Linked DNA regions of Homo sapiens. The protein of the gene in region 1 interacts with the protein of each later gene in a biochemical or structural test. Each region holds a gene or a part of one and is shown in the gene's direction. Other genes may lie near its edges.

Region 1 (10,213 bases):
AATCATCTTGAAACCAATTCAGAAGTTGAATAAGTTTCAGGAGAAGGTGATTTGTGGGGAGAATAGGGCTGAGAAGCAAGGAAGCCAGTTAGAGAAGTGATATTTGGGGCTTTTGCTATTCAAAGGCTAAAGTCAGAATCAAAGACAGAAGGAAGATAGAGGCACAAAGTGAGAGTTTTTGCCAAATTAGGGCAAGGGCATGCTTTGACAGAAGGCAAGATAACGTGCCTTACTTGCTCCCCATACGCTTTAGGGAAGGAGGAGGAGGTGGTGTGTGAAATTTTCAGGGCAAGGAGCATTGCCAGCACTTTGGGTACTGGAGGAGGAGAACGAGGACTTGGCAGCCCCCAGGGTATCTTTGAATAGTGTCCTGGGAGTTTTCCTGAGTGTTTGGGGAAATGGGGCATGACATTCATTTGTGTGCTTGGCATGCCAGTCTGGTTTGTATTGGTACACAGAAGAGAGTAATGAGGCTTTCCACCTCCATCATCTCCCTGGGGTGTTATAAAGACTAATGAGATAATAGCCATAAAGCTCCAGAAGCTGCTGGAAGAAAGGAGCTGAACAGCCCCATTGTTCAGAGGGCGGTCCCCCTGCTGGTGCTTCACACTTCTGCCCTGCCCTGCGTTGCCTGGAAAGGCCTGTCCCTGCCTGCTTCTTAGCCAGCTTAATGTGGCCAAACAGAGGAAGGAAGCAGTTGAATCCATTCAGACTTTTGCCTTTTGGAAATCAGCCTCAAGGCACAGTTCCCAGAAACCAGTTGCATCCAAAAGCAGGGAGCTGCCTGTGTCATAATGAGCTTGAGGTGGCAAAACACTTCTGGGACAGGAGATAGCTCCAGTTATTGGACATGAGCTAATTACAGGCATCCTTGAATCCTGTGGTCAAGAATTATATTTTATTAGCCCCTCTGTATTACTGCGCCTTGGGTTCATACTGATGTTTTCTCGGGCTTGTGAGTATAGGCACTGGGCTTTTCACTTAACAGTGCTGCTGCCGTTTCGTCAATGGAGGGGAGTTTGTGTCAGCTGAGGAAGGACACGGTGGGAACTGGGGGTGGTCAGCATGGAAGATGACGTGTTGAGGGTACCAGCTACTAAAGTCTGATGGTGGTACAGTCAGAGGGCACAGCACCTCTCATGCGTCTGGGATGAACCAAGAGCTCAAAGACAGCAGGGTTACTCTTCAGCGTTGTGGGGGGAGTGAGACTAACCTGGGGCTGGTGGTCTGCCGTGAGCCCGCCCTAGAAGGGTGGTGAGAGAACCCTGTATGGTGTGGTTGAGAACGTTGTAAGTAAAGACTAAGGAGTTACAGGCCTGTGGAAAAGCAGAGGAAGGAGTGTTGGGGGATGGAGAGGGAACGAGGGCTGTGGAACTCAGCACACAGTCCTGGGACCTGGGGGGGCCTTTAGGAGAGCCCTCCAGTGGCACTTTCAATCATGTCCAGAGTGGATTGATTTCTTTTGCAGATGAGCTTTTGACTCCTGGGAGAATAACACCCATTTCTGTTTCCTTTTCAGGGGCTCAATGCGCATTGGGAAGGATTTTATCCTGTTCACCAAGAAGGAAGACACCATGACCTGCCTCTTCCTGTCTCGCACGTTTCATGAGGAAGAAGGCATTGATGAAGTAGGTCCCATCATCGTGGTCTGCATCACCAGTCCTCATTTCCTGAGTCTGCCCAGGCGGTTTTCGTAGGTTATTTGCAATGCTAGACTCTTTGGGGTTGCAGGATTGGAGCACATTCCCCCTAATTGTTATGCAGTTAGCTGGCTGGATGAATTGGTTGAGGGGTTAAGGTAGATAACTTTAATGTGAGAGGAAGCAAAATCTCAGAGCACTTCAGAGAACAACTGTTTCCGAGAATGAGACTGTCAAGTGGCAGGAATTAAGAGTTGGATTTGCAGCTCCTCTAGATCTGCCACTTGAATTCCATTTTGGGGGGAGTGTTACCATGGAACATTGTTTTATCAGGGGGAGTATTTTGGGCTTCCCTGATCATGGTGTTTCCTATTTGGTGGTGATTTTGTGGAATGTGCTATGAGCTCATTTTCCTTTTGAAGAAATGTGTTACTCTATGTCAGAAACTATGACTCAGATACCTAGAGAGAGCCTGGGCAGGTAGTAAAGCAGGTGAGTGTATGGAGAACAGGAAAACAGAGCTGATGCTGTGGGTCTCGTCTTGGGAGTGGCTGCTACACAGCCCCAGTGATTACTGCTATGCTGGAAGGAAGGACTAATGAATCCAGAATATTCTGAGTTTAAATCATTTTAGTAATTGACTATGTAAGCTAAACACACATTTGGCCGATTCTCCTTGTGGCTCAGATGTCTGCAGAGCTGTTTCTGGTGAGGTCTATGCCCCCTCATTGTGGGAGATCAGGGCAGCTCTGTGGACTACCCAGCCTCAGACTGGACTCTTATCTCCTTTCCTATGTAAGACATGGAGGCCAGGGCTTGAAAGAAGGGGGGCTAAGAGGTTCTGTGGAAAGAAATCCGCAACTTCCACAGAAGCAGGTAATTGAATTCAGACTTACAATTTAATTCATCTGTGTTGATTAGCTGTGATTAAATTTGTTCTGGTTCTGTTTAGATCTGAGCCTTAATCATAGCAAACTTGTTCAGGTAGGGAATGGTAGGCCTTCCGTCATTACGTAGCAAGCCAGTGGGTTTGTCTGCCTTTTTGGTGTGGTATGTGAGTTCATTCTGCATACTTGAGTGAGAGAAGCGTGGCAGCTGGAAAGAGCAGGCTTCTAGGAGAAGTAGGATAGGAAAATATAGCCTGGGTTGGGGTTTTCAGGAATGTTTCCTGATACAGGACTGAGGATGGTGACAGGAGGGTATGGAAGTCAGTAGAAGCAGCCTGCTTAAGGCCCTGAGGGCTGTGGGAGGGGACTTGGCTGCAGGGCCACCTGGAGAAAGGTGGTGGCCTTTGGAGATCAGAGAGGGCCAGGTTAGGCTTGACCTCGGGGCCTTGATGAATGTGTGGGGCTTTATTAAGCAAGGATGTGCCAGTATCAGATTCTTTTAAGAAGGTCCATGTAGCGATTGTGTGGTGATTGGGTTGGAAAGGTTAGGGTGAGTGTTGGAGTGTTCCAGTTGAGAGGCCCAGGCTCTGTAGCTTGGCGGTACTCGCCCAAGGGAGGTGAGAGAAATACATGGAGTTTCCATCTCTTTAGGATGTGGGACCCACAGATTTGGTGATTGATTGATTAGTAGAAGGCGAAAGCGAAGCAGGGGAGTCATGGATGACTCATAGGTTCTGCTGTGGCAGTTGGGGAGTGGGGTCTCTGGAATTGGGAAGAATGAAGAGGGGAAGTATGGAGGGGAAGAGTGTAAGTTTCTTCTGGACATGCAAAGTGCAGTCTGGGTCTGGCATTTGGGGGAAGTCTGGGGGCTTCAGCATTCTTGGTAGCAAACGAGGTCACCTAATGGAGAGAATAGAGTGAGAAGAGGATCTGGGACCTAGAGCATGTCAATATCTAAAGGTCGGGGAGAGGAGAAGGGGGCCAGAGGGACAAAGGGGTAGCCAGAAAGGTAGGAAGAAAACTGGGCAAGTGTACCATTGAACTAAAGGAGAAGTGTTCCTGAGGGGAGGGATGGGGTGCCCATGGGAGTGAAAGCCAATGTTTAAAGTGATGCCATTGTCACCTGGGATGGCTGTGAAGAATGGGAGGCGTAGTGAGGTACAGGTTTATAGAACACAAATGGAACTCGGTTCCCGTGGTGGAGAGGCTAGGTTGAGATTTTTTCCTTACTTGGTGCTAGAAGGTCGCTATTTTGGATTGTACTCTAGTGCAAACTCAGCCAAGATTTCAAAATAAGATCATTTTCAGTTGAGGAGGAATGTGTCCAGACCAGCCCTTGGGTTGAATAGTTGCAGCACAAAGCTTCTTAGAAACCAGCAAAATGGGCCGGGCCTGGTGGCTCACGCCTATAATCCCAGCACTTTGGGAGGCTGAGGCGGGCAGATCATGTGGTCAAGACCATCCTGACCAATATGGTGAAACCCCGTCTCTACTAAAAATAGAAAAATTAGCTGGGCATGGCAGTGTACGCCTAGTCCCAGCTACTTGAGAGGCTGAGGCAGGAGAATCACTTGAACCCAGGAGGCGGAGGTTGCAGTGAGCCGAGATCGTGCCATTGGTGGAGGTTGCATTGAGCTGAGATCATGCCATCGCACTCCAGCCTGGGCAACAAGAGCAAGACTCCGTCTCAAAAAAAATAAAATAAAAAAACCCAGCAAAATGTCTCAGAACTCTTAACAGTTTGTCACCCCAGCACTTGTTAAGATTACAGAGTCCCTTTTTCCTAAGGGTTTGAACCCCTGAGGTGCTTAGCCTGGCCTGCTCTGCAGAGGAAATCCTTCAGGCAGCCATCTGCAGGGCTCTGCAAGGGCTGCGGCCTCATAACCACCGAGGGAGGAGCCTCTGGGGAAGTGGCATATGAGGTTGGGTTTTTGAAGAAAGAGTAGGATTTTTTTAAAACATCACTTAGACATTATTTAAATTAAATTTCACATAAATGGAAGAGTGTATTGAAATATTTATGCAGTTCAGAGGACAATTTTAAAGGCAACACCTGTGTTGCCACCATCACAGACTGATGTTAGAAGTGTCCTGTGTGCCCTCATCAGTCATATTTCTTCTTGTGCCCCCGAAGGAACTGCCTTCAGGTAACTTTTGTGATAATGATTTCCTTCTTTTTCACTATAGTTTGTCACCCTTGTATGCATTTTTAAATAATAGTTTAGTTTTGCCTATTTGTGAATTTTTTAGAAATGGACTCTTACTGTAGGTATTTTTTGTATCCTATTTCATATAACACTGTGTTTATGTTGTTCATCCATGTTGATGCTAGTAGTGGTTAGTTCATTTGTATCACTATATAGTGTTCCATTGTACAGTTTAATTTGGCCACTCTAGAATGGATATTTGGGTTATTTTTATTTATTTATTTATTTTTGAGATGGAGTCTTGCTCTGTTGCCCAGGCTGGAGTGCAGTGGCACGATCTCAGCTCACTGCAACCTCCGCCTCCCAGATTCAAGCAATTCTCCTGTCTCAGCCTCCTGAGTAGCTGGGGCTACAGACGCACGCTGCCACGCCCGGCTAATTTTTTGTATTTTAGTGGAGACCGGGATTCACCATGTTGCCCAGACTGGTCTCAAACTCCTGAGCTCAGGCAGTCCATCCACCTCAGCCTCCCAAAGTGCTGGGATTACAGACATGAGCCACTGCACCAGGCCTGGGTTATTTTTGTACATGTTTACTGGTACATATGTACAAAAGTTTCTCCTAGGGTATGTACCTAGGAGTGGAATTGCTGAGTTTTAGGTTATGTTATGTGTATTTACTGATTCACTAGATAATTGCAAATATATTTTCCCTAGTGGTAAGAGTAGAATTTTTACCAAATTAAGAAAATGACCAGGGACGTCCCAAGCAGGGAACTTCTCATGCAGAGACCCTAAGCACATAAACCAACATCTCCTGAAGGAAGTAGTCTTGTGTGGCTGAGTCTTGGGAAGAGGCAGAAGCCCTGAAGCTCACAGAGCCTCTGGTGCCAGGCTGTGGAGCTTGGGCCTCACCTACAGGGCAGTGTGGAGCTGCTGTGGGGAGGGACAAGAGAGATGCACATTTGGGAGGAAGGCTGTTCTGGGGCTTCCCTTAAAGTGCCTGCTCATGTTTACTCCACAGGTGATAGTCCCACTGCCCACCTGGAATGCTCGGACCCGGGAACCTGTCACAGACAATGTAGAGAAATTTGCCATTGAGACAGAACTCATCTATAAGTACTCTCCATTCCGCACTGAGGAGGAAGTGATGACCCAGTTTATGAAGATTCCTGGGGACAGCGGTAAGTAGGCTTTGAGCCTGTAGCCCCTAGAATCTGGGAGCTCCAGAATCACAAGTAGTGTGGGGGTGGGCCGGGGGATCTGGCAGGACAAAAGATTTCTGTTTCTCAGGAACATTGGTGATCATCTTCAATCTCAAACTCATGGATAATGGAGAGCCAGAACTAGACATAATCTCAAATCCAAGAGATATCCAGATGGCAGAGACGTCCCCAGAGGGCACGTGAGTGTGGCTGGGAAGGGAGGGAGGCCCTGGAACTGGCGTTTGTGCTCTCAGGAGATGGCTTCAGGGAAAGAGGGGAGAGCACATTCATTGCCCAGTGTTCTGTGGTAGGGTAGTATGTAGGGCCAGCTCAGTTGCCTGTGGGGTGCCTGTGCTGAGGACGTGAGAGGGGCGGGATGTGGTGCTCACACTAAGGGAGCACCAGTTCAGGGCAGCAGCAGAAGTCAGTACCTAACATGGAAAGGTGGAGAGCCTGCAGAGAGGATGTTGTGCCCTTGGTCAGGCCTGTTGTGGAGCAGGTGACAGCACTTCTCTGTTTTTGCCCTCTCCAGGAAGCCAGAGCGGCGCTCGTTCCGTGCCTATGCCGCTGTGCTCTATATTGATCCCCGGATGAGGATCTTCATCCATGGGCACAAGGTGCAGACCAAGAGGCTCTCCTGCTGCCTGTACAAGCCCAGGTAGGGGCCAGTGCCCCTTGGCCTGCTGTCTCCCATGGGTCGAGGATGTGGCCGCGTTTCTCTGGGGCATTGTTAGAGGGATGCTGTATAAGAGGCTCTGGCAGTGCTGACTACGTTTGGGACTTTAAGTTGCCTGTGATTGGTCACAGGGTCAGTTCTGGGTCCTAGAGGAGGGACAGATCAGCTGTGGAGGTGGCTGGCTAAGCTCATTGAGTATGTGTGCCTCTGTGACAGGGAGGGTGCCCTGCCTGGCTCAGTGAGCTGTCTGAGTCTCTTGGCTTTAGGGCCAAGGGGCCTTTAGACACTATATAGGAAAGCAGTGGGCTTGGCTTACTCCTGAGGTTTGTTTCTGCTGTGGGATGAATGACAACCCTGGTGAATGGTGAGGTTGCTTATCAAAGACAGCAGGAGGCTAAGGGCAAGTGGAATAAGGAACTGCACCTTTTTGCTGAATTGAGCTTGGATTTGTCTCATCATGAGGGGCCAGGACAGCACAGCTTGGGAGGAGGCAGGAAGGCAGGGTGCTTCCTGTGCTTGGGTGTGCCACCTGCCCCACTGCTGCGTGGGCCATCAGCTTGCTTTTTCTACTGATCAGGATGTACAAGTACACGTCAAGCCGTTTCAAGACCCGTGCGGAGCAGGAGGTGAAGAAAGCAGAGCACGTAGCAAGGATTGGTAATGCCACTCTGGGTGCAGGAGTTGGGGGGGTGTGCATCTGGGGTATGCTGCTTGTGGGCAAAGTGGGGTTCCAGGAAAAGGCTGAGTCCACAACTCAGGGACAAGGCTGGTCTCCTGAAGCATAGTTCAGTTCCTTTGCAGCCCCTTTCACTACATGCCAACTCCCTCAGCATTTCTTCTTTCTACACTCCACTTTCTCTTCTTCTGCCATTTATAGGGCCTAAAAGTGTCAGCTCTTTGGCTTATCCCAATTGAAGAATCCCACTGAGTTCTCTGGTGCAAATACTTGTGAAATTGCTTTTCCTGACTTCAGGGCAAACATCTCAGGGGCTCTCTCGCTGTTCAGGGTTTCTCAGGGTTTCTCGGCTGCTTGTTGGAGAGTGATTGGCTGAAGACTTCTTTAGCTTCCAGCTCAAGCTGAGTGTTCAACTGGTTGCCTTAGGTGTTTTTTTTTTTTTTTTAAACCTGTTCTGGTTCATTTGTAAAGTTTCCTTGGGGCCTCCGTGATAGGTTTGAATGCCAGATTTTCCTTCTGTGACTGACTGCCGTCCAGGCACAGAGGCTGCCCTCACATTGCTCACCAGCCATAGCTCCCCCTACTCTTTTTTTCCTTGGTGGTGTACACACTTCGTGTCCAGTACTGTGGATCCAGGAGGGATGACCAAGAGTTTTGAACCTTTGCATTTCTTACCATGTTCTCTTCTGGGTTTCAGCTGAAGAGAAGGCGCGGGAGGCAGAGAGCAAAGCTCGGACATTAGAAGTACGCCTAGGTGGAGACCTCACGCGGGACTCCAGGGTAAGGTCCCGGCCCAGGCGGCTGTTCTCCAGCGTTTCTGGCACTAGGAGCCCATGTCCCATGAGCCTGGTCAAGTAAAACACAGCTTTTGAGTTTGTCCCCAGTGAGGGCTGTTTTCTGTAGAAAGAAGTAAATTTCCAGGTGTGGTTTTACATCTTTGAGATAAATTGAGATGTCTTAGATGTAATGTTTCAATATTCCCTGCTGTGGCCTAGAGTGCCACCTCCCCTCACCTGATGTCAATGTGTGCAGGTGATGTTGCGACAGGTCCAGAACAGAGCCATCACTCTGCGCAGAGAAGCCGATGTCAAGAAGAGGATCAAGGAGGCCAAGCAGCGGTGAGTGCCAGGCCTGTCCTTGGATCTTTTAAACTGACGTAGCTTTTGGACTGATTATTGACAGGTTGCTATTCTGTCACCAAGACTGCTTTGTTTTAATGCCAAATGCTTGTCAAATGCCTCCTGCAGGAGGGAAGTCTTAATCCTAGCTCTCAGCCCTTTTTTGAGTCATAAAGACAGGGCAGGGCTGACAACCTCGGCTCGAGCACCAAAACCATCCTTTGGCACTGTCTTACCTTTTCTTCCCTTTTTCTTTCTTTCTTTTCATTTAAAGGATGTATAAAATGCTCATTGTATGAAACTTGAAAAATATAAAATGTTTAAGGAGTAACATTTTTAAACTCCCTTATACTTCTACCACCTGGTGATACGACCCTATTTTTTATGTTACATATATATTTTTTCATATTCATTTTCTCCTCAGTGGTTATGTATGTAGAATAATGCTGGAGATTGAGTGTTGTATACTTTTGCATTTAGAACCAGCATTTGTCCTGGATCATTAAGTTTCCTGCTTGTCCCACCTCCATGTCTGGATCCTCTTTGGACTCTGTGGCTTGATTCACTGTTTTGCCTCTTGTTGGCCTCCTTGGCACAGGCATGGGTTTCAGGTTTTTTCTCTCCAAGTCAGTCCACTCCTCATCCATCTGCTTTTCAGCTCTAAGTTTTTGTTGATAGTAATCACATGATGGTGTCTTATTGCACATGCTTATTATTCTTGTGAATTTTTGCCTTTTAAAATAATAATAATTGGCCGGGCACGGTGGCTCACGCCTGTAATCCCAGCACTTTGGGAGGCTGAGGTGGGTGGATCACGAGGTCAGGAGATCGAGACCATCCTGGCTAACACAGTGAAACCCTGTCTCTACTAAAAATACAAAAAATTAGCCGGGCATGGTGGCGGGCACCTGTAGTCCCAGCTACTTGGGAGGCTGAGGCAGGAGAATGGTGTGAATGCAGGGTGCGGAGATTGCAGTGAGCGGAGATCGCACCACTGCACTCCAGCCTGGGCGACAGAGCAAGACTATGTCTCAAAAAAAAATTATAATAATTTACTATCATACTAGTGGAATTTTGGGGAAGGTATGACGATAACCTGGTGTTTATTCCAACATATAATTGTCTTTGCACAGATTTGCAGCAGCTTCGTAATAAACAATTCATATTTAATGAATATGAATGGTTTGGCAACCATCCCTGTTGCCAAAAAGCCACACTCATGTTTTTAATTAGGGATGCTTTGAGTTGGTGCCCAGTGCATGTCCATATCAAGTCTAACAGGTTACACATCAAATAGAGATACAAAACTTTTGGCTTAACATGTTTCAAGTTTAAGCTTAAGCTTAACACATCTTAAACACTATGGTGCTTGTGTGCCGATGTGTAGATCTGCTTGAGTTTTTTTGTCTTCTTAGAGCACTTAAAGAACCTAAGGAACTGAATTTTGTTTTTGGTGTCAACATTGAACACCGGGATCTGGATGGCATGTTCATCTACAACTGTAGCCGACTGATCAAAATGTATGAGAAAGTGGGCCCACAGCTGGAAGGGGGCATGTGAGTACTACCCACAGAGAGCTGTCTAGCCCAGGATAGTTGGCAGGAGGGCGTTGCCAGTGGGGTGACAGAGCTTGTTCTCTTTCTCCCTGTAGGGCATGTGGCGGGGTTGTTGGGGTTGTTGATGTGCCCTACCTGGTCCTGGAGCCTACACACAACAAACAGGACTTTGCTGATGCCAAGGAGTACCGGCACCTGCTCCGAGCAATGGGGGAGCACCTGGCGCAGTATTGGAAGGATATTGCCATCGGTAATGGGGCTGGGCTGCTGGGCCTCTGCCTTTTCTCTTCACCTGAATGTAGGGAGAGA
Region 2 (10,213 bases), on another chromosome or scaffold:
TGTTTTCTCCCTTTATTACAAAAGCAATACATGGTGCATTTTGAATTAGAGGCTACAGATTGGGGAACAAATTTTTAATGCCTAGCATGGATGTATTTATGCATTTCTATATCACTTTTCCTTTTCATATACATAGTAATCTGCTTTTATTTTTAGGCAGTGTATAAAACACTCATAATCTACATAAGTTTTAAAGCTGTGTAGTATTTCATTATATACATGTACCATGATTTGTTCAACCATTCACCTGTTAGACATTTTAGTTATTTTGAACTTGTGCTGTTCTGTACAGAGCCTCATGAGCATCCTGTGTCTTGATGGCCTTCACACACGCACAGCATACATAGAGACTCTCTTCTAATGTGGCTTTTACTTTTTGGGTCAGGAGGCTGTCAGTCTTCTGCCCTGTAACATGGGGCCTGGTAATTAAGCTCCTGTTAAGAATGGATGTGTCAGGCCAGGCGCCATGGCTCACGCCTGTAATCCCAGCACTTTGGGAGGCCGAGGCGGGCGGATCACAAGGTCAGAAGATCAAGACCATCCTGGCTAACACGGTGAAACCCCTTCTCTACTAAAAAAAAAAAAAAAAATACAAAAAATAAGCCGGGTGTGGTGGTAGGCACCTGTAGTCCCAGCTACTCGGGAGGCTGAGGCAGGAAAATGGCATGAACCCAGGAGGCAGAGCTTGCAGTGAGCCGAGATAGCACCACTGCACTCCAGCCTGGGCGACAGAGTGAGACTCCATCTCAAAAGAGCGGGGGGAATGGATGTGTCAGTGTCAGGGTTAAACCTGAACATGGGGGTGGAAACAACTGGCCTAGTTCGAGAAACAAGCTATATTCTGTGAGTGGGCTCTGTATCAGAGTTGGCCTTTCTGCCTGCACTGTCCTGCTTCCCCCACAGGTGTGCCTTGAAGGGGAGATTTCTCGCCAGTCCATCTTGAACAGTCTGTCTCGAGGCAAGAAGGCTTCAGGGGACCTGATTCCATGGACAGTGTCAGAACAGGTGACGGGCTTTCCCTGGTGTGTCTGAGGGAAGCTGGTGGTGTCCAAAGATGTCTGTGTTGCTAAGTTACTGGTTTGTGTCTCCCACACAGTTCCAAGATCCAGACTTTGGTGGTCTGTCTGGTGGAAGGGTCGTTCGCATTGCTGTTCACCCAGATTATCAAGGGGTAATGTGTCCTCAGGCTCCCCTGAAGCCGTGTTGCTGGCGGTGCTTTAGGGTGGGGGTACTTGGTGGCTGGAATAAGAAGCTGGTCAAGCAGAAGCAAGTGAAGTGTAGGCACTTCCCTGCTCTGGAGAATTGAGCCAGGGTTCGGGGTGGGTGGGTGGACAGGATGATGGCATATGCTCACTCTTCCTTTGTGAGAACGAGGACTTGTGAACCAGACCTGCATAACAAAATTACCTTCTTAGAACACCTCACTGAGTAATTGGCTGTAGAAACTTCCTTTTCAGGCAATGGTACAGAAACTGCCTCTCATTTGGGCTTGCCCATCTGGAGACCAGAAAGCACAGCCATCCTTACCCTCAAGTGGCTGTTCTTGATGAGCTAGACCAGTGTTAAGAACTCGGGTCACACTACTTTCAGTCTTAAGTGTCTCTGCTTTGACCTCACTCAGGGTTTTCATTGGTTCTCTTGCCCCGTGCTGTTTGACAGGGAGGGAAGGTTCTCTAGAAGCAATGCAGGGGAGTCACTGTGGCTTAGACTGAGAGCAGCTCTCTTCCCTCGGCCTCTTCCCCTTCACGTTTGCTCCTAGATGGGCTATGGCAGCCGTGCTCTGCAGCTGCTGCAGATGTACTATGAAGGCAGGTTTCCTTGTCTGGAGGAAAAGGTCCTTGAGACACCACAGGAAATTCACACCGTAAGCAGCGAGGTAAGCATCTTTCGACAGACCTCCTGTGTCCTGGTTCTTGGGAGGATAATTCTCTGGGTTTTTAGGGGCATCAACAAAAACCAGTCCAGAGCTTTGGACCCCTCTCTCATTTTCTTCTGCTGCTTTCTCCTACCGAACACTTTAGATCCTCAGATCAGTATCATTGGGATCATCTGGCAGCTTGTTAAAAATGTAAATTCTTGAGCCCCACTCCAGACCTACTGAATCAGAAACTCTGGGGTAGACCCTGTAATCTGTAGTTTAACAAGATTCTCAGGTGATTCTGATGCTCATTCAAGTTTGAGAATCACTGCTCTATAATCTCTTTCATCCTACACCAGACTAAGGGAAGTTCTGTCATTCCTTGATAAGAATGACTAATACTAGTAACTGTGACAGCCTTTCATGTGCATTCATTGATTTTCATAGTATGTATATTTGAGAGCTAGACAAGGGGCTTTTATTTAAGTTGAGGCAGCTGGGCAACATGGCGAAACTCCATCTCTACAAAAAATACAAAAATTAGCCGAGCATGGTGGTGCACGCCTGTAGTCCCAGCTACTTGGGATGCTGAGGTGGGAAGATTGCTTGAACCCCAAGGTTGAGGCTGCAGTGAGCTGTGATCTCGCCACTGGACTCTGGCCTGGGTGACAGAGCCAGACCCTGTCTCAAGCAATGAAAAAAAAAGTTCAAGCTCAGAGGTTTGTCACTTCCTAAGGCTGTCAGGTGATAGAACCTGGACTTCATGCTGGATCACAGGAGCCTGCCTGTCCCTTTGTAAATCTGTTGGGCATTTTTTTTTTTTTTTGAGATGGAGTCTTGCTCTGTCTCCCAGGCTGGAGTGTAATGGCGTGATCTCAGCTCACTGCAACCTCTGCCTCCCAGGTTCAAGCAATTTTCCTGCCTCAGCCACCTGAGTAGCTGGGACTACAAGCACACACCACCGTGCCTAGCTAATTTTTGTATTTCCAGTAGCGATGGGGTTTTGCCATGTTGGCTAGGCTGGTCTCAAACTCCTGACCTCAGGTGATCCACCCGCCTCAGTCTCCCAAAGTGCTGGGATTACAGGCATGAGCCACCACTCCCGGCCTCTGTCAGTCGTTTCTAAACTCTTTGGCTGTCTTCCTGCATTCTAGAGGTCTGAAGCAGTGTGATTCTATGCATGTTGAGGTGTTTTGAGAATGATTGCTTGACTCCGGTGTTCTCATAGTTTGAAAACCACAGCAATAAACCAAGAAACCTCTCCCAGTTTTTGTTGTGCTAAGTCCAGAGTGCGCTGCGGCAGGGTGCTTGACGATGTCTCTCTCCCTCTGCTGAATGGACTGTGTTCTCTCCTTGGCATCTTCCCAGGCTGTCAGCTTGTTGGAAGAGGTCATCACTCCCCGGAAGGACCTGCCTCCTTTACTCCTCAAATTGAATGAGAGGCCTGCCGAACGCCTGGATTACCTGGGTGTTTCCTATGGCTTGACCCCCAGGCTCCTCAAGTAAGTGCCTGCCCTCCTTCCACGGCATCACTCCTTGGCATTGAGAAAGAAGAGTTCTGTGGGCTGTGTGTCTCTGTTGGTAGCTGGTATCGGTGCTAGCCTGCTATTTGTGGCGTGCTCTTCCTGGCTCTTGCCCTTGTGTGTCTATCAGCCACTCCCCAGAGGCCACACACAGTGACCTACTGTCTTTGTATCTTTGCAGGTTCTGGAAACGAGCTGGATTTGTTCCTGTTTATCTGAGACAGACCCCGGTGAGTGAGGCATCCAGCAGAGGAGAAGTTTAGGTTTACCGTTATGGTAGGTGACAGGCCTGTCCTTGCAAAGAGCCCTAGTGCCTCCCTGCTGCATCGCTCTGAGCAGGTGGCTGTGCCTCTGAAGAGGTTTATTCTGATGGACATGGAAACAGCCATCCTCAGTGACAGGCCACATCATCACACATTTCTTCTCCGACTACACGGTGCATGCGTTGAGCTTAGTCATAAAATGGCAGAGGTACACGTGGACTTGTTCATCAGATTCTGGGAAAGGAGAGTGGACAGGAGGATCAAGGGTAATTCCTAGAGTTTTGGCTTGAGAAACTGGGTGTTGGAGGTGCTGTCGGAGATGGGACTCACTGCAGGAGGAGCAGATTTGGAGGGAAGAGTGGGAGTTCTTTTTTGATGTTAATATGAGATGCCTATTGGACATCCAAGTGGAAATGTGGACTAGGCATTCATTTGACTACAGGAATTTGGAGGTAGGGAAGTTTGGGGCTAGAGATGGAGCTTTGGGAGCCATCAGCATATTCATAATAGAATGCACTGCAGGAGGGCACGGAGCTCTTGTCTGTTGTGTTCATTGCTGTATTCCTCGCACTTAGAGTAGCAATTGCTGTGTAGTTTGTGTTCAGTAAATACTTTTGTTGAGTGAATGAAAAATATCTGGAGCCAATGAAAGGATGTGAGAGTGACTCCTTGGACCCTAACGTTTAGAGGAATGAAGAGGAGGACACAGCACATACAAGACTGAGAAGGAACAGCCCTGATGCGCAAGAGAAAGTCGGGTGTGGTGTCACACGTCAAGGTGAAAAAGTGGGAATGGGAGTCAGCCCTGTTGAGAGGATGAGGAGGATGAGGACAGCTGGCCATTGGATTTGTCAGCAGCGGTGAGCTGCATTGAAGCAGCTGCAGTGGAGTGGAGGCTTTGGCCTGGCCAGAGGGAAGAGGAGGTGAAGAACTAGAAGGGGAACAGGCGACTCTTTCAGGAAGCGAAAGGGAGCAGAGAAACAAGGTCGCTGGAGGGAGATGGGCGCTAAAGAAGGATTGTCCGATGGGAGATTCTAGAGAATGTTTTTTGCTGCTGGGTTCGATCCTGCAATTAGTGGTATGGGTGAGGGGGGCTGACTGCCAGAGTGCAGGCCTTGAGGAGGTGGTGGGTGGGACTCGAGATTCAGGAAGAGAGGTGACCACCTACTTCATCCTTCGGAACAGGGAAGGCAGAGAGCGTGGGAATGGAAGGCATCAGTTGGCTGGCTGATCTGGGGTTGGGAGGATGAAGACATTGTCTTCTGAGTGCTTCTGTCTTCCCAGATGAGGGGAGTCCATCGGCTGAGAGGGAAGTGTTGGAGGTTTGATTTTGGAGAGGGCAAAGTCAGTATCAGAGGCTAGTGTCCAGTGTCCGTCCGAGGGTTTAAAGTGGGACTGGTGAGGACTGCTGGGTGTTGGGCTGCTTCCGTGCAGGCAGGGAGCTGCAGAGATGGGTTGAGTCTCTGTCAGTACATTTGGTGGAGGCTGAGGATGTAAGTTTGGCTGTCAGCTGCAAGGAGAACGCAAGCTAGTGAGCTGTGGTGTGGTCTGCGGTGTGTCCGTGTGGTCTTGCACTGTGCACTGTTCATTTGTGACTTGGTGGTGTTTTTATGGTGTGGGGCTTTGTTGTTATGGAGTAAAAAATGTAAAAATAGTCACAATTTTAACACCTAAAGAAGCCTGCACTTGCAGACTGGCTGCCAGCACTGAGGTGTAGGTTTTGGCCCTGGAGTTCCTGCTGTGAGGCATCAAACCCATGTTGACTGGATTGTGTGGCGCTTAAGCCCTAATGACTGAGTTCAGCATCTACCTGAGAGGAGCACATATTTCCCTCCCGCACGTCCCGAGCAAGAGGCAGGCCCAGAAGAGCCAGCAGCTCTTCTCTGTGTCTGTGACACTTTTGAGGAGATTGCAGGACAGTGATCTTTGCAGCTGTTGTGTGTGAACTGAGGTGATATGAGGAAGGTGAAGGCGAGGGCTGTTTGAGAAGGGCGCCTACCCCCAGCCTGGAAAGAAGGAGAGGCCTGCGGAAGCACTAAGCCTTTCTTCTCTGAGTGTTTACCCTTCATCAATGATGGGTTATTCAAAAAAAGGGGGTTCTTGGTGCCAGTTAAACCTCTGTGTTGCCCAGAATGACCTGACCGGAGAGCACTCGTGCATCATGCTGAAGACGCTCACTGATGAGGATGAGGCTGACCAGGGAGGCTGGCTTGCAGCCTTCTGGAAAGGTGACTGAGGAGTAGGGGTTTGGGGGAGACAATGAGGTGATTGGGGGCTGCCGGGGATGCCTCCAGACCTCTAACTCTGCGTGATGGCACCCCACAGATTTCCGACGGCGGTTCCTAGCCTTGCTCTCCTACCAGTTCAGTACCTTCTCTCCTTCCCTGGCTCTGAACATCATTCAGAACAGGAACATGGGGAAGCCAGCCCAGCCTGGTGAGCCGGGTGGGGACAGGGAGGAGGGTTGGGAATGGCTTGGCTGTGTGGGAGGTGGGTGTGGTGTCCTAGGAAGGGTTTGGGCTGGAAATTGAGGGACTGGTTCTAGCCTGCAGTCACTCGCTGGTCACCACCCGCTTGCCAGGCCCCTGCTCTGTCCCAGGCTGTGCTGTCTTTCATTTTCATGGTAAGACTCTGGCTGTGCAATTTAATGTCAGAGGTGTCCATTTAGTTCATGTAGCTGGTTGGTTATGGAGGCCGATTTACATCTGTGCTCTAGGGGAGTGAGGTGCTCCATCTCTGAGGTTTAGTTTCCTGATTCATGAAATTGTAATAAGAATATGCTGCTAGCCTTCTGTAGCCAACAGCACACAGAAGTGCTTTGTGCATACAGATTGTTTGAATACTTAAAAAACAAAAAATGTGTAAGAGATTAGTTTTATTGCATATTTTATATATAAATATTTAGGTATAGCATGCATATATGTGTATATGTGTGTGTATATACTTTTTTGCCAATTATATTTTGATGGAGAAATCCGTATATCTTGAGCTGGGCAGAGCTTACACACTTTCTGTGACACCAAATGAAGTGACAAAGCAGGGAAAGAGTGTAGTTGTGTTCCCCTAACCCTGGGCCACAGGGAGCTTTTCCTTGGTCCATGTGTTCAGTATGGGAACTGAGCAAGGGTCCTGTGGCAGCCGTCCCCTCCCCACACGTGGCCTGGAGCCGCCCCTTCTATGGCAGGAGCAGGTTTGGTGCCCCTCTGGGCCAGGGCTGTGTGGTATGGCTGCCAGGCCCTGTTAGATGCTCCTGTGTGTTAGGGTGCCGCCTGGGGGCTGTGTGCTATCTCATGAGGGCGCCGGGTGACCTAACCTGTCTAGCTCTCTATCCCATGGACAGCCCTGAGCCGGGAGGAGCTGGAAGCACTCTTCCTCCCCTATGACCTGAAGCGGCTGGAGATGTATTCACGGAATATGGTGGACTATCACCTCATCATGGACATGATCCCGGCCATCTCTCGCATCTATTTCCTGAACCAGCTGGGGGACCTGGCCCTGTCTGCGGCTCAGTCGGTATGCTATCTGTTGCTTGCGTGGAGGAGAAGCGAGGATTGTGGAGCTGTTCATTTGCTGGGTGTTGGGTTGGGCACTTGGACATAATTGTGTGCCTTTAATTCCTCATACATCTGATAGGTGGGTAGTGGCATCCTCATTCTACAGGTCAGGAAACCTGGGCTCTGAAGTCGAGTAATGTGTCCAGCCATACAAAGTGAGAGAGCTGCAGCTTCCACCCCACTACGTTGCCTTGACACTTAACTCCACCTTAGCAGAGGTTCAGGAACATCCCAAACTTTTAATGTAGTTGTGAAGCAGGTATTTGTCAGGATAAAAGTTACTTTGGGGATTTTAGGAAGACAGCATTTCTTGGTGGTCTCAGTAACAGGATGAAAGAGAAGATGCCAATATACACAGTGCTAGTCTACCTTTGTACCAATAGCTTTGGTCAAGAGAGTACTCTGGTTCTTGGCGCCATTTTAATGGGCAAGGGCGTGTCCTAGAGGCCCACCCAGCAGATTTTCCATCCTTTAGGCTCTTCTCTTGGGGATTGGCCTGCAGCATAAGTCTGTGGACCAGCTGGAAAAGGAGATTGAGCTGCCCTCGGGCCAGTTGATGGGACTTTTCAACCGGATCATCCGCAAAGTTGTGAAGGTAACCTCAGCCTGAGGGCAGGGGCTTGATGTCTCTCAAATAGTGCAACAAACCCACTCCCTGCTCCCGAGATGAACACATGTTAGCATTTAGCTGTGTTTGCTGCATCTCGTCACACACACACACACACACACACACAAATCCAGGACTTCAGAACACATGTTAGCATTTAGCTGTGTTTGCTGCATCTCATCACACATCACACACACACACACACACACACACACACACACACACACACACGTGCGCGCGCAAATACAGGACTTCAGCTCTAAAGAATCTGTGAAGTTCTGTGTCCTCTCCCAGAGGCATCCCTATTAGGAATTTGGTACATATCCAGTCTGTGTTCTTCAGCTCTTCCCGCTAATATCCACATTCCTAAACTGTAGAGTGTTGCTTTGTGTCTTCAAAATGCACACCTTTCTATAAGACACCAAGTGTCTGGGTCACGGGTGACTGGGTCCCTGCTGCTCCTTCATCTTCTGCTTCTCTGTTGGTTGTCTTTTGTAGCTATTTAATGAAGTTCAGGAAAAGGCCATTGAGGAGCAGATGGTGGCAGCGAAGGATGTGGTCATGGAGCCCACGATGAAGACCCTCAGTGACGACCTAGTATGTCCCTGCTCATGGCCTCGGGAGTCCCAGCATTTCCATCAGTTGCCTTAGGCTGTGAATTCAGACTGTCTTCCCCTTCCCCTTTAGAAAGAGTCCTCTGCACTAATTGAGCTAAGTGCTATTCTGTAGGTTTAATTGGACAAACGGACCCAGCATTGTCTGAGCACACACAGGCCTAGAGTTGTGCCTCCCACTGATTGTGTGTGTGTGTTGTGAATGTAGGATTCCAGCATCTGTTGGAAATGTTTTGTCTTTTTTGGTGACTTCTTAAATGCATAGTTTATAACAGAGCTACCTTAAAATAATCAAAGCTGCCTACAAGGTTTTTGCAGGTAGATGGAAGAGAAGGAAATGTTTTCTCATCATTGTGCCATTCCACCCCAGCTTCACCTTTTCCTGTGTTTGGTTCAATCCTTGACTCTGACTTAGTCTCTTTATGGGTCCTTAACCACAGGATGAAGCAGCAAAGGAATTTCAGGAGAAACACAAGAAGGAAGTAGGGAAGCTGAAGAGCATGGACCTCTCTGAGTAAGGCTTGTGGGAAGCAGAGGGTTTGCCTTGGCTTCTGGGGCCCTAAGAATCTGCCTACACGTTTCTTCTAATCATATCCCACGTGCCCTGGAAAGTGTCTTTCATGGGATCAGTTTTAGGGATGCTAACAGTTCTATTTGACCTTCTAATTGCCTGTTTGTATAATTTTGGAAGAGTTGGGTTCCGGAGACTAGTGCCGCCACTTTGACTTACACATTGCACTCTCTGATCCCCAAGGCTCCAGGTCACACCTCGGGTCCTTCCAGGAGTGGGGGTGCCGATTGGATGAGCAGGCCCTTTAATGGTTACTTACTCTATTTGGCTTTTACGTGTGACTTTGTTTGAAGAAAGGATTCTACTGCTAAAACCAACCAAACAAGCAAAACACCCCTTGCTCTAAAACCGTCTGGGAATCCTAGTCCCTTTTGTGCTTCAGCTGTAGTGGTGCTGCCTCTCCCTCCACTGCCTGGATTGATGTGAATAATAACTCCAGAATTCATGGCCTCTGAGCCTCTGTGACCTGTAGTCCTGTTTCTGGGTCATTAGTGATGGTGGCTGCTGGGTATGTGAGGTGGAGGTGGCCAGGAGTCCTTGGACAGAGAATCGAGCTCTAGTTTTTGCCCTCAGCTTTGCAATATCAAAACCTTGATTTGCCAGGACTGCTAAATCTGAAAGAGAAGGGAGGGAGGGGAGAGGCACAGTTCAAGGGCTTGTGGACAAATGCTTGGAGGTGGGAGTGAGTGAGAAGATTGTGGGGGTGACAGGAAGCTTCTTTGGTGGATGTTAATGAGAGTCATGTGGGAAGAGCCAGGCAGGCTGCCTTCTGTGCAGGACTGTCCTCACTGACCCCTGCCAGCAGGCCTGGTGACCCTCGCTCCTGTGGAGCTTCTATCCATAGAGCTAAGCACCATGTCTCTTGGCCCTCCTGCATGCTTGTCCCCTCTGTCCTTTCTGCTGTTCAAATGCTGACACAGCTCAGCCTGGCTTTCATGACAGGAAGTGTCTGATAAGAATGTTGTCACTGTCGTTATTTTCTCTTAAGCAGTCCCCTCTTCTTTCTAGCAGGCTTTGATAGTTCCCTTCTTTTTTTTAGATACATAATCCGTGGGGACGATGAAGAGTGGAATGAAGTTTTGAACAAAGCTGGGCCGAACGCCTCGATCATCAGCCTGAAAAGGTGAGGGCCCAGGGTCTGATGTGCATCTGGCGGAAGAGGCATTCTGGCCTCTCTGCTTCTCTTTAACTTTGACTAGAAAATAGGAGGTTGGAGCAAAAGC
Region 3 (10,213 bases), on another chromosome or scaffold:
ACTGACATAATGTTTAAAATTATGTTTTGAGGATTGGTGGTTGTATTAAACTGTATATAAGATTAAAAATAAATTGCCAGGGCATATTACTAAGTGCTAGTGAACATAGCCCATTGAGTCAGGGGACCTGTATAGAACTGATGCTTTACCAGAGTTGTAAGTCCTTATGTAATCTGGTTCTGTGTCAGGTGATCTCATTTCTTCCTACTCTTCTGATTCACATGGACCTTACTATTTTTGGAACGCATTAAGCACCTTCCTCTCTCAGGGCTTTGCATGTGTTGTTCCTCTATTTGGAATATTCTTTTATATATTTCTAGGACTGACTTCTTCCCTTGGCTTTAGGTTTCTGCTGAAATATCACTTTTTTTTAGAGAAATCTTACCTGTTCCTGCTGCTCTCCTTCCATCACTTTCCATTCTCTTACCCTTTAATTTTCTGCATACTACCTGACTGGTTTTTTGTTTGATTCCTTTCACTGCAATATAATCTCCACAAGGGCAGGAACTTTATTTTATTTGATGCATTCATTATCTTTAGTGACTGGAGCATAGTAGGTGTTCATGTCAATGAATGAATGTTAGGAAGTATATGGTTTTCACTAAATGTAGTATTGGGTCTTACAGGAAAAATAAATACATGTTGGAGATGAATATTGTCTCTGGAAAGTACCTGCACTTAAATAAAATAGGAAACTGTTGGCAAGATACTCCACTCTGATTTTGACTAGTCTGGTTACTTCCTTGTGATTTTTCTAACAGGTTTCAGGAGTCAAGGGATTTGTTGGAATCCTAATTTAGAGGCCCTTTTTTTCTGGGACTCTTTTTTGACTCAGAAGTGATTACCTGCTGGCTTTCTGGTTTTATAGCCTATAGTTCCTCTGCACTATTATTTAAATATATGTTCCATAATTTTTCAAAGTATATTATCTGGTATTTACTCAACCTGTCTTTTACACACTTGATAATTTTTGTTTTGTTTTGTTTTGTTTTGTTTTGTTTTGTTTTTTGAGACAGAGTCTTGCTCTGCCCCCAGGCTGGAGTGTAGTGGCACCATCTTGGCTCACTGCAACCTTCGCCTTCCAGGTTCAAGTGATTATCCTGCCTCAGTCTCCCCAGTAGCTGGGACCACAGGCATGTGCCACTACAGCCAGTTGGTTTTTTTTTTTAAGTTTTCTTTTGTAGAGTTGGGGTCTCACTATGTTGACTGGGCTGGTTTTGAACTTCTAGCCTCAAATGATCCTCCCCGCTTGTCCTCCCAAAGTGCTGGAATTACAGGCATGAGCCACTGTGTTAGGCCCATAATTCTTAATTATCTTAAGGATTCTGCCTGAGCTTTGGCAGAGCTAGGATTCTGTTTACATGCTAGTTTGAGAAATACTTGCCTTATTGGATGTGTTTAAACTGTTTTTTTTTTTTGTTTTCTTATAGACAGTTCAAGAAGAAGAAAGAGAGATTTACAGACAGCTGCTACAGATGGTCACAGGGAAACAGTTTACTATAGCCAAACCCACCACACATTTTCCTTTACACCTGTGAGTCACAGAAGCATATTTCAGATGAATTTAATTCTACAATTTATTACTTGATATTGAAACAATATTCTTCTCTTGCTAGGTCTCGATGTCTTAGTTCCAGTAAAAATACTTTGAAAGACTCACTGTTTAAAAATGGAAACTCTTGTGCATCTCAGATCATTGGCTCTGATACTTCATCATCTGGATCTGCCAGCATTTTAACTAACCAGGAACAGCTGTCCCACAGTGTATATTCCCTATCTTCTTATACCCCAGATGTTGCATTTGGATCCAAAGATTCTGGTACTCTTCATCATCCCCATCATCACCACTCTGTTCCACATCAGCCAGATAACTTAGCAGCTTCAAATACACAATCTGAAGGTAAACATGGTATCATATAACTACATTTTTAGTCCTAATAGCCAATTAACTGTTCATTAGCTCATTACAGGCAACATTGTAATATACATATAAATAAATGAGCATACCGAATCTGAAAATATGAAGTCCGAAATGTTCCAAAATCTGAAACTTTTTGAATACCAACATGATACTCAGGAAATGCTCAGTGGAGCATTTGGGATTTTGGATGTTTGGATTTGGGATGCTCAAATTGTATAATGCAAATATTCAAAAGTCCAAAAAATCCAAAATTTGAAACTCCTGGTCCCAACCATTTTGGATAAGGGATACTGAACTTGTAAGACATGTACTTACATACTTTAAATACATATGATTCAGTTAACCATGCTGTGAGTAAACTAAATCCACAAATAGGATATTCTTTTTTTCTTACCTCAAGATGCAAATGATTTGATACATTTTATTTAAACAACTTCCTAAGTACAGGCTAGAGTCAAAGTATATATACTCAGCCCAATTGCTTCAGCACTTTCTCTGTTTCTATGACTTTACAGTGGTAAGTAAGAATTCTGAAGTTGTAGGAGTTTTGAAACATCAGATAAATACTGAAGCTTAAGTACTTAGGTTTGTGCGTTTTAGAATGATTGTCAGCATTGGAAGCAAAAAGTTTTCTACGTAACTTTCAACTAACTGAAATATTCACTCTCTTTGCATTCCAGTTAATTAAGGTTTTGTCGTGATAGGTTTGTTTCCTTAATTTCCCCCTTCTTTAGGTATGTATTATGTATCAATTTATGGTATGTACTTAGGTATGCAACTTAAAACAAGTTATAGGTTAAATGGTTAAACATCAGGGATTTTTTGATAGATGGAGCACTAGTCTTTCCCCTCCTTTCTCAGGTTGTTTGAGGTTTTTTTTTTAATCTATTTGTACTTTGTGAAAATTCTCACTCAGGATTAAACTTTTTGGTAGCATCATTGTATAGCTACACATATCCATGAAGACTCTTGTTATATTTTGTGAGGTGATGTACTGAGAACTGTAAAGGAAAAAAAAAAGCCAAAAAACCCAAACTCCTTTAACCTCAGAAACATACATTGTGTTGCAGATACTTAGATACAACTAAGTTGAAACAAATATACTACATTGCACTGTTTAATTACTTTCCTTGTACCATGTAATAAATACTCTGAGGTTCTAATGACAGCACTTTAGAAGAACATGATTCCTGCCTTTGAGTAGTATTCAACAGAGAAAATACATAATAGAATGATAAAATTTGTACTTTTTAGACACCTCCTGGGGTGCTATTTCCTTCCCTGTCCCCCTTCCCTCCTTCTTCCAGTTTCTTTCCCTCTTCCATTCCCCCACCCCTTCTTTCACCTAATTCAGTCGCATTGTAGATCATGAACTACAGTAGTTCCCCCTTATCTGTGGGGGGAGGATATGTTCCAAGACCCGCCCCCCACCAGTGGATGCTTGAAACCATGGAGAGTATACTATATATACCATACCCTATATACATCATGTTTTTTCCTATACATACATACTAATGATTATAAATTAGGTGCAGTAAGAGATCAACAATAATAACTAATAACAAAAATTATAACAATATACTGTAATGAAGATGTTACTTTTTTCTTATTAAATCAAAAACTTTAACCTTTTCACTTAAAGGAAGTAGTGTTTTTTGTTTTTGTTTTTGTTTTTGTTTGTTTTTGAGACTGAGTGTCACTCTGTTGCTCAGGCTGGAGTACAGTGGGACCATCTTGGTTCACTGCAACCTCGCATGTCCTGGGTTCAAGCGATTCTGCTGCCTCAGCCTCCTGAGTAGCTGGGATTACAGGTGTGAGCCATTATGCCCAGCTAATTTTTGTATTCTTAGCAGAGACAGGTTTCACCATGTTGGCCAGGCTGGGGAAGCACTTTTTACGGCTTCTCTTTGGCATACCTGAATTGCCAACATCATTACTTTTGCCTTTTGGGGACATTATTAAGTAAGGGTTACTGAACACAAGCACTGCTATACTGAGACAGTCAATTGGATGACTGAGGTGACTACTAAATGACAGGTGGTGCATACAACATGGATATGCTGGACAAAGGGATGATTTCATGCCTGAAATAGAGCTGGATAGAGATTTTTATCACATTACTTGGAATGGCATGCAATTTAAAATTTACTAATTATTTCTGGAATTTTCCATTTAATATATTTGGACCGCAGTTAACTATGCGTAACTGAAACCATAGAAACCAAAATTGCAGATAGAGGACTACCATGAAGACTTTTAAGGAATCCTGCCATGTTCTTGTTCTCCTGAAACAGACAGGAAGCACAGGGAGCAAGTGCAGCCTAGGAGGAAATTCTGAAGGGCAAATATGTTTGTTATTTCCCAGGGATTTTCTTATTTGTGAAGCAAATTCTTCACTAAGACCTATTTCTGTTCTCAGTGACAATGGACTTGCCTCTCTCTCTCTCCCATCTAACCTTTGTTCTTATGTTATTTTTGTGGAAATAAAATATAGCAAAGTATGGGAACTTAAACTAAGATATCTAGAAAGTATAACTTTGTGGAGTTTTATTACTAATGAAATGCTCTTGTGTTTCTTTAGGATCAGACTCTGTGATTTTACTGAAAGTGAAAGATTCCCAGACTCCAACTCCCAGGTAAACTTTGGAAAAAGCTTGTTCTTTATTAATTAATTAATATATCTTTTTGAGACGGAGTCTCGCTCTGTTGCCCAGGCTGGAGTGTAGTGGCGCGATCTTGGTTCACTGCAACCTCCACCTCCCTGGTTCAAGCAATTCTTCTGCCTCAGCCTCCCGAGTAGCTAGGATTACAGGCGCCCGCCACCACGCCCAGCTAATTTTTGTATTTTTAGTAGAGATGGGGTTTTGCTGTGTTGGCCAGGCTGGTCTCGAACTCCTGACCTCAAGTGATCCACCTGCCTCGGCCTCCCAAAGTGCTGGGATTACAGGCGTGAGCCACCATGCCTGGCCTAAAAGTTTCTTCTTAACATATTGTTTTCCCTTTCTTTAATCACAGCTTTTTCACTAAAAGTTACATAATGTAAAACTACCTCAATTCAGACCTTTCTCACGTATTACTTGAATTATTTTAGTGGCTTTATAATTGTTCTTCCTTCAGCCTCTATTTTGTTCTTCATTCCGTCTTCCACCATACCATGTTCTTGAAACAATTTTTCTGCCTTGCTCTTTTTTCATTTGTTTTTGTTTTTGTTTTTGTTTTGAGACAGGGTCTTGCTCTGTCACCCAGGCAAGAGTGCAGTGGCACAATCATGGCTCACTGGAGCTTTGAACTCCTGGGCTCAAGTGATCCTCTTGCCTCAGCTGGGACCACATATGCATGCCACCATACTTGGCTAACTTTTAAATTTTTCTTTTGTAGAGACGGGATCTTGCTATGTTGACCAGGCTGGTTTTGTACTCCTAGCCTCAAGCGATCCTCCTAACTTGGCCTTCCAAAGTGCTGGGATCGTAGGTGTGAGCCACTGCACCCGGCCTGCTGTGTTCTTTAGTCCATCTTCCATGCTGCAATCAGAGTGATCTTTCAGAATTCATGTCTGATCATTCATTAAAGGGGTTTAATGATTATTTGTTAACCTCCTTCAAGGGTGGTTTATCAGACATTGAATTAAGCTCAGGCTCCTTACTATGGTATACAAAGCACTTCTTTCACAAGCCTCACTTTCTCACTTTTAACAAATATTTACTGAGAGCCTACTGTGTGCCAGGTACTAGTATAAATATTGAGGATAATAGGGAACAATGTGAAGTCCCTATTCTCAAGGAGCTTGCATTCTACTTGAGGGGAAGGATGAAGGACAATGTGAAGTCCCTATGCTCAAGGAGCTTGCATTCTACTTGAGGGGAAGGATAAACAAATGTATATGCCTTGTGATAAGTGCTATGAAGAAAATTGAAGCAGGGTAATATATAGAGTAGGATTGGGAGGATACTATTTGTATAGGGTGGTCATGGAAAGTCTCTGATAAAGTGACTTGAGCAGAGACATGATGGAGGTAAGAGGGAGCCATATGGAAATATGGGACTCTTTCATGTGTTTTTATAAGCTGGACTATTTTCAGTTTGCAAATACAATAAGCATTTCTTACCTTCACATTCAGTGTTCTTTTTGCCTGGAATGTCCTCCGTACCTCAACTTTGTCTGTCAGTAGTGTTTTATCTTTTAGGTCTCAACTCACATGTGAACTTCTGCATGAAACTTTACTTATCTGGAGGTATCAAATACTTCTTCCTCTGTAATACAGTAATAGTAATCCATAGTAACCATTACTATGATTGCTATGCCTTTGCCATATATGGCTTTGGGAATTCAATTGCTAGGATGAGAATAATATCAGTTTTCCGTTGAGAAGATTAAGAGTAATGAAATATTCTTTCTCATCTCAGTTCCCCTACTTCTTTGCAGCTCCCCATATGTTCTAAGCTTTAAATATTTCTTAAAATTCTCTATTTGTTAAGTCTTTTGGGGAGACTTCATAGTTTGGATTCTTTATTTCTTACATCTTTTTTGGAGTCAGATCTGCCTTCTGATCTTGGGTTGGAAAAGGCTTCATGTAGCTTTGGACAAGTTACTCTTATGAACCTCAGTTTCCTTATCAATAAAATGCCAGTATTGATACCTTACACTTAATTGTGAAGATTAACTTACAGATAAAACACTTATTTTTATAAGTGCTTCACATGAAATGCCACAAGATGCATGCAACTTTCTTGGGAAGAAGTTGATCTCTCAGGTAAAGAGTTGATCTCAGTTCCTTAATGGTTCTTTACTAAGACTGCCTTTCCTTTACGGAGGATTTCCCCTAGTGATGACTAAAGAATGAGATGGCAGGAGAAATGGTCTGTTGGGTAAGGCTGTTTGAGCAATGCTCTTTGTCAAAGTTGGTGCCTACTCTGCTGAGGCTTGGTTTATTGGCTCTCTACTCTTAATTCTCCACTACTGCCTCTCAGTTAAGTTCCAGTAATGAAGATCTGCTTTTATTTCCCAGAATATGCTATGCTGTGTCATACCTCTTTGCCTTTATACATTCTGATCCTTCTGTCTGGATGTCCCTTTCTCTCTCTGTCTACTTGGTAAGCTCTTATTTTGCTTCCTTTTCTTTCTTTCTTTTTTTTTTTTTTTTTTTTTTTTTTGTGACAGAGTCTTGCTCTATCATCCAGGCTGGAGTGCAGTGGCACAATCTCTGCTCACTGCAACCTCCGCCTCCCGGGTTCAAGTGATTCTCGTGCCTTACCCTCCAGGGTAGCTGGGATTACAGGCATATGCCACCACACCCAGCTAATTTTTGTATTTTTAGTGGAGATTGGGTTTCACCATGTTGGCCAAGCTGGTCTCGAACTCCTGACCTCCGGTGTTCCACCCACCTCAGCCTCCCAAAGTGCTGGGATTACAGGCATGAGCCACTGTGCCTGGCCTTAATTTTGCTTTTCAAAATCTCATCCAGGTGTTATTTTTTTTTTCTCAGAAGATTTCTTTGACTTTGCCAGATAATGTTAGTTTTTCCCTCCATCCTTCTACCTTGTTTGTTACTAATACTTTTGTATCTGTCACCCATTGCTGGTCATAGTGCTTGGCATATGATGGGTGCTCAGTAAATAAATCTTTGTTAAACAAATGAATTTCCTAGATAGCCTGAAGTGCTCTCTTGAGTAGCCCAAGTACTTATTCCTCCCCCGCTTTTTTTTAATGCTTTCATCTATTGAAAGGCACAGTCGAAAGAACACAGTCTTTGGAATTGGACAGATAAGATTTCTAATCCTAGCCTTTCAAGAGAAATTATCTTTTTGAACCTCCTTTTTCATTTCTGTACAGTATGAGTAATAATTCTTTTTTATATATTATGTTGAGGTTTAAATAGTATAGGGATTTTCATTAGGCTTAACTAATACATAAAACATCTAGAGCAGAGTTTTACATGTAGAGCACTAAGTATGTGCTCAAAAACATTTGCAGTTATTATTACTATATGCCTCAATTATATGAGAAATAATGCATCTCTTTGGAAAAGCAGATTTTCCCTGCATTTTGTTTTCCGGAGCCAGTGGATACCTTGATCCATTGAAGAAAACTGCTTGTCCCTACATTACTTGTTTATTCAAGAAATACTATATGGCTGGGCATGGTGGCTCATGCCTGTAATCCTAGCACTTTGGGAAGGCCAAGGTGGATGGATCACCGGAGGTCATGAGTTCGAGACCAGCCTGGCCAACATGGTGAAACCTCGTCTCTACTAAAATAAAAATAAAAAAAAGAAAAAATTAGCCAGGTGTGGTGGCGGGTGCCTGTAATCCCAGCTACTCAGGAGGCTGAGGCAGGAGAATCTCTTGAACCCGAGAGGTGGAGGTTGCAGTGAGCCGAGATTGTGCCACTGTACTCCAGCCTGGGCAACAGAGTGAGAGTCAAAAAACAAACAAACAACACTAAATGCCTACTCTGTGCCAAGCACTATTCTAGTTGCAGATCATTTTTTTTTTTTTAAGAGACAGAATCTCACTATGTTGCCCAGGCTGGTCTTGAACTCTTGGCTCAAGCGATTCTCCCACCTCAGCGTCCTAAAGCACTGGGATTACAGGAATGAGCCACCATGCCTGGCCTCTGATCCAGGTCTCTTAACTCCCAATTTGATGCTCTGTTTACTTGTTCTCTATATTTAATAGTTTTCTTTGGAAAAGTGTTCACTCTTCTTCTTTGTGTTTCTGTGATAGATCCTGCCTAGTTAGGAGTTTGGAGATAAGGAAGTTTGAGAAAAACAAGAGGCTCTAGGACAATTAATCATGTCTGTGGCTCTGCTCAGCATATCACTTGGGTTGTCAGCAGAGCCACATGGACCTAGAATTGGCCTGTCATCTTTGGAAGGAAGTTGTGTTGCTGATTCTCTGCTTTGGCTCATTGGCTTGTTAGCCATTTGATGTAGATTATTTTGTGTGTGGGGATTTTTAATAAATCTTTCAATCTGAGTCATTTGGGAAGAGCAATGTTCTAGCTTAATGTATTATTTTGAGAAGTGATGTCCTCTTTCACGTAATGTTGGTCTCATGCAAGTAGGGAGCTATGCCAAATGTAGTATCTCTGCTGAACTTTGGGTCACCTTTTTAACTAATATGTATCCATATGATTTTAACTAATATGTATGCATAAGGATTGTGTCTCCTTAATTCCTAGTTACAATTATTTTATGTCATTTAGATTCCTTTTACTTATTCCATACTTGTAAAGCACTCATATAAACAATTTAAATGATTGTTTTTATTGATGAAAATATTTTAATTTTCTCATAAGCCTCCTGCTCATTTGTCAAATTTTTCTTTTCCTACCCATAGTTCTACTTTCTTCCAGGCAGAGCTGTGGATCAAAGAATTGTAAGTTATTTTTGGTATCATTTTTCCTTCTCAATCAGTTCATTTTTAGTTAGAAGAAATCAAACAATTAGCTAATCATCCTGCTTATTTTTTGCCAATAAGAAGTACCTGTTTAGGCTGGGCGCGGTGGCTCACGCCTGTAATTCCAGCATTTTGGGAGGCTGAGGCAGGTGGATCATCTGAGGTCAGGAGTTCAAGACCAGCCTGGCCTTCATGGTGAAACCTCATCTCTACTAAAAATACAAAAATTGGCTGGGCATGGTGGCACGCGCCTGTAATCCTAGCTACTTGGAAGGCTGAGGCGGGAGGATTGCTTGAACCTGGGAGGTGGAGGTTGCAGTGAGCCGAGATCACGCCACTGCACTCCAGCCTGGGCAACAGAGTAAGACTCCATCTCAAAAAAAAAAAAAAAGAAGTGCCTGTTTATACTTTTAAGTTGTTGGGTTTTCAAAATATTGTTGGAGTTGGAACATTTCTATACTTATGTTTATTAAATCTATAACAATTGTTGAAGCTAAATTAAATTGGAAAAATAGAGTTAGCTATTATATAATAGGGAAAATAAATGATCCTATTTTGGCATTTGTAAAACTAATTTATTGAATAATTCATATTTCTGGACTTTGCAAAATCACTGAAAGCATTTAGTCTCACTTAAGGAACTTAAGTTATCCAAACCCCTCGGTCTCGGTAATTTTTTAAAAATCTATCAAAAATGAAGTATTTGAATTAAACTTCAGTGATATCTTGTATTCGTTTCTCCTTTAGGGTTCAATCCCATTTTTGGATTTCCAGACTGAAGTTTCGCTTTCACTATAATCTTAAAAGCATGTTAAGAAAAGAACTGTGTGTTTACAAATGTTAACAAGTCATCTGTTCACATTTAGCAGCACACTAATATTTTTAGTAATTTCAG

What was found.
Region 2: the proteins of MORC2 (region 1) and NAT10 form a complex in vitro, tested with the Homo sapiens proteins (one study listed by BioGRID).
Region 3: of the proteins of MORC2 (region 1) and SENP1, one has a biochemical effect on the other in vitro, tested with the Homo sapiens proteins (one study listed by BioGRID).

The regions. Positions count from the first base shown.
Region 1 is NC_000022.11:30,937,756-30,947,968, reverse strand, and holds part of MORC2 (ATPase MORC2), read left to right. Parts: intron 1-1,519; coding exon 1,520-1,628; intron 1,629-5,697; coding exon 5,698-5,857; intron 5,858-5,966; coding exon 5,967-6,078; intron 6,079-6,410; coding exon 6,411-6,536; intron 6,537-7,131; coding exon 7,132-7,211; intron 7,212-7,927; coding exon 7,928-8,010; intron 8,011-8,262; coding exon 8,263-8,348; intron 8,349-9,763; coding exon 9,764-9,904; intron 9,905-9,999; coding exon 10,000-10,154; intron 10,155-10,213. UniProt on the Homo sapiens protein: Essential for epigenetic silencing by the HUSH (human silencing hub) complex. Recruited by HUSH to target site in heterochromatin, the ATPase activity and homodimerization are critical for HUSH-mediated silencing.
Region 2 is NC_000011.10:34,133,416-34,143,628, forward strand, and holds part of NAT10 (RNA cytidine acetyltransferase), read left to right. Parts: intron 1-903; coding exon 904-1,005; intron 1,006-1,096; coding exon 1,097-1,171; intron 1,172-1,759; coding exon 1,760-1,876; intron 1,877-3,226; coding exon 3,227-3,360; intron 3,361-3,562; coding exon 3,563-3,611; intron 3,612-5,775; coding exon 5,776-5,872; intron 5,873-5,969; coding exon 5,970-6,080; intron 6,081-6,984; coding exon 6,985-7,157; intron 7,158-7,673; coding exon 7,674-7,793; intron 7,794-8,303; coding exon 8,304-8,402; intron 8,403-8,859; coding exon 8,860-8,933; intron 8,934-10,029; coding exon 10,030-10,113; intron 10,114-10,213. UniProt on the Homo sapiens protein: RNA cytidine acetyltransferase that catalyzes the formation of N(4)-acetylcytidine (ac4C) modification on mRNAs, 18S rRNA and tRNAs.
Region 3 is NC_000012.12:48,066,011-48,076,223, reverse strand, and holds part of SENP1 (sentrin-specific protease 1), read left to right. Parts: intron 1-1,430; coding exon 1,431-1,534; intron 1,535-1,616; coding exon 1,617-1,900; intron 1,901-4,502; coding exon 4,503-4,557; intron 4,558-9,258; coding exon 9,259-9,297; intron 9,298-10,213. UniProt on the Homo sapiens protein: Protease that catalyzes two essential functions in the SUMO pathway.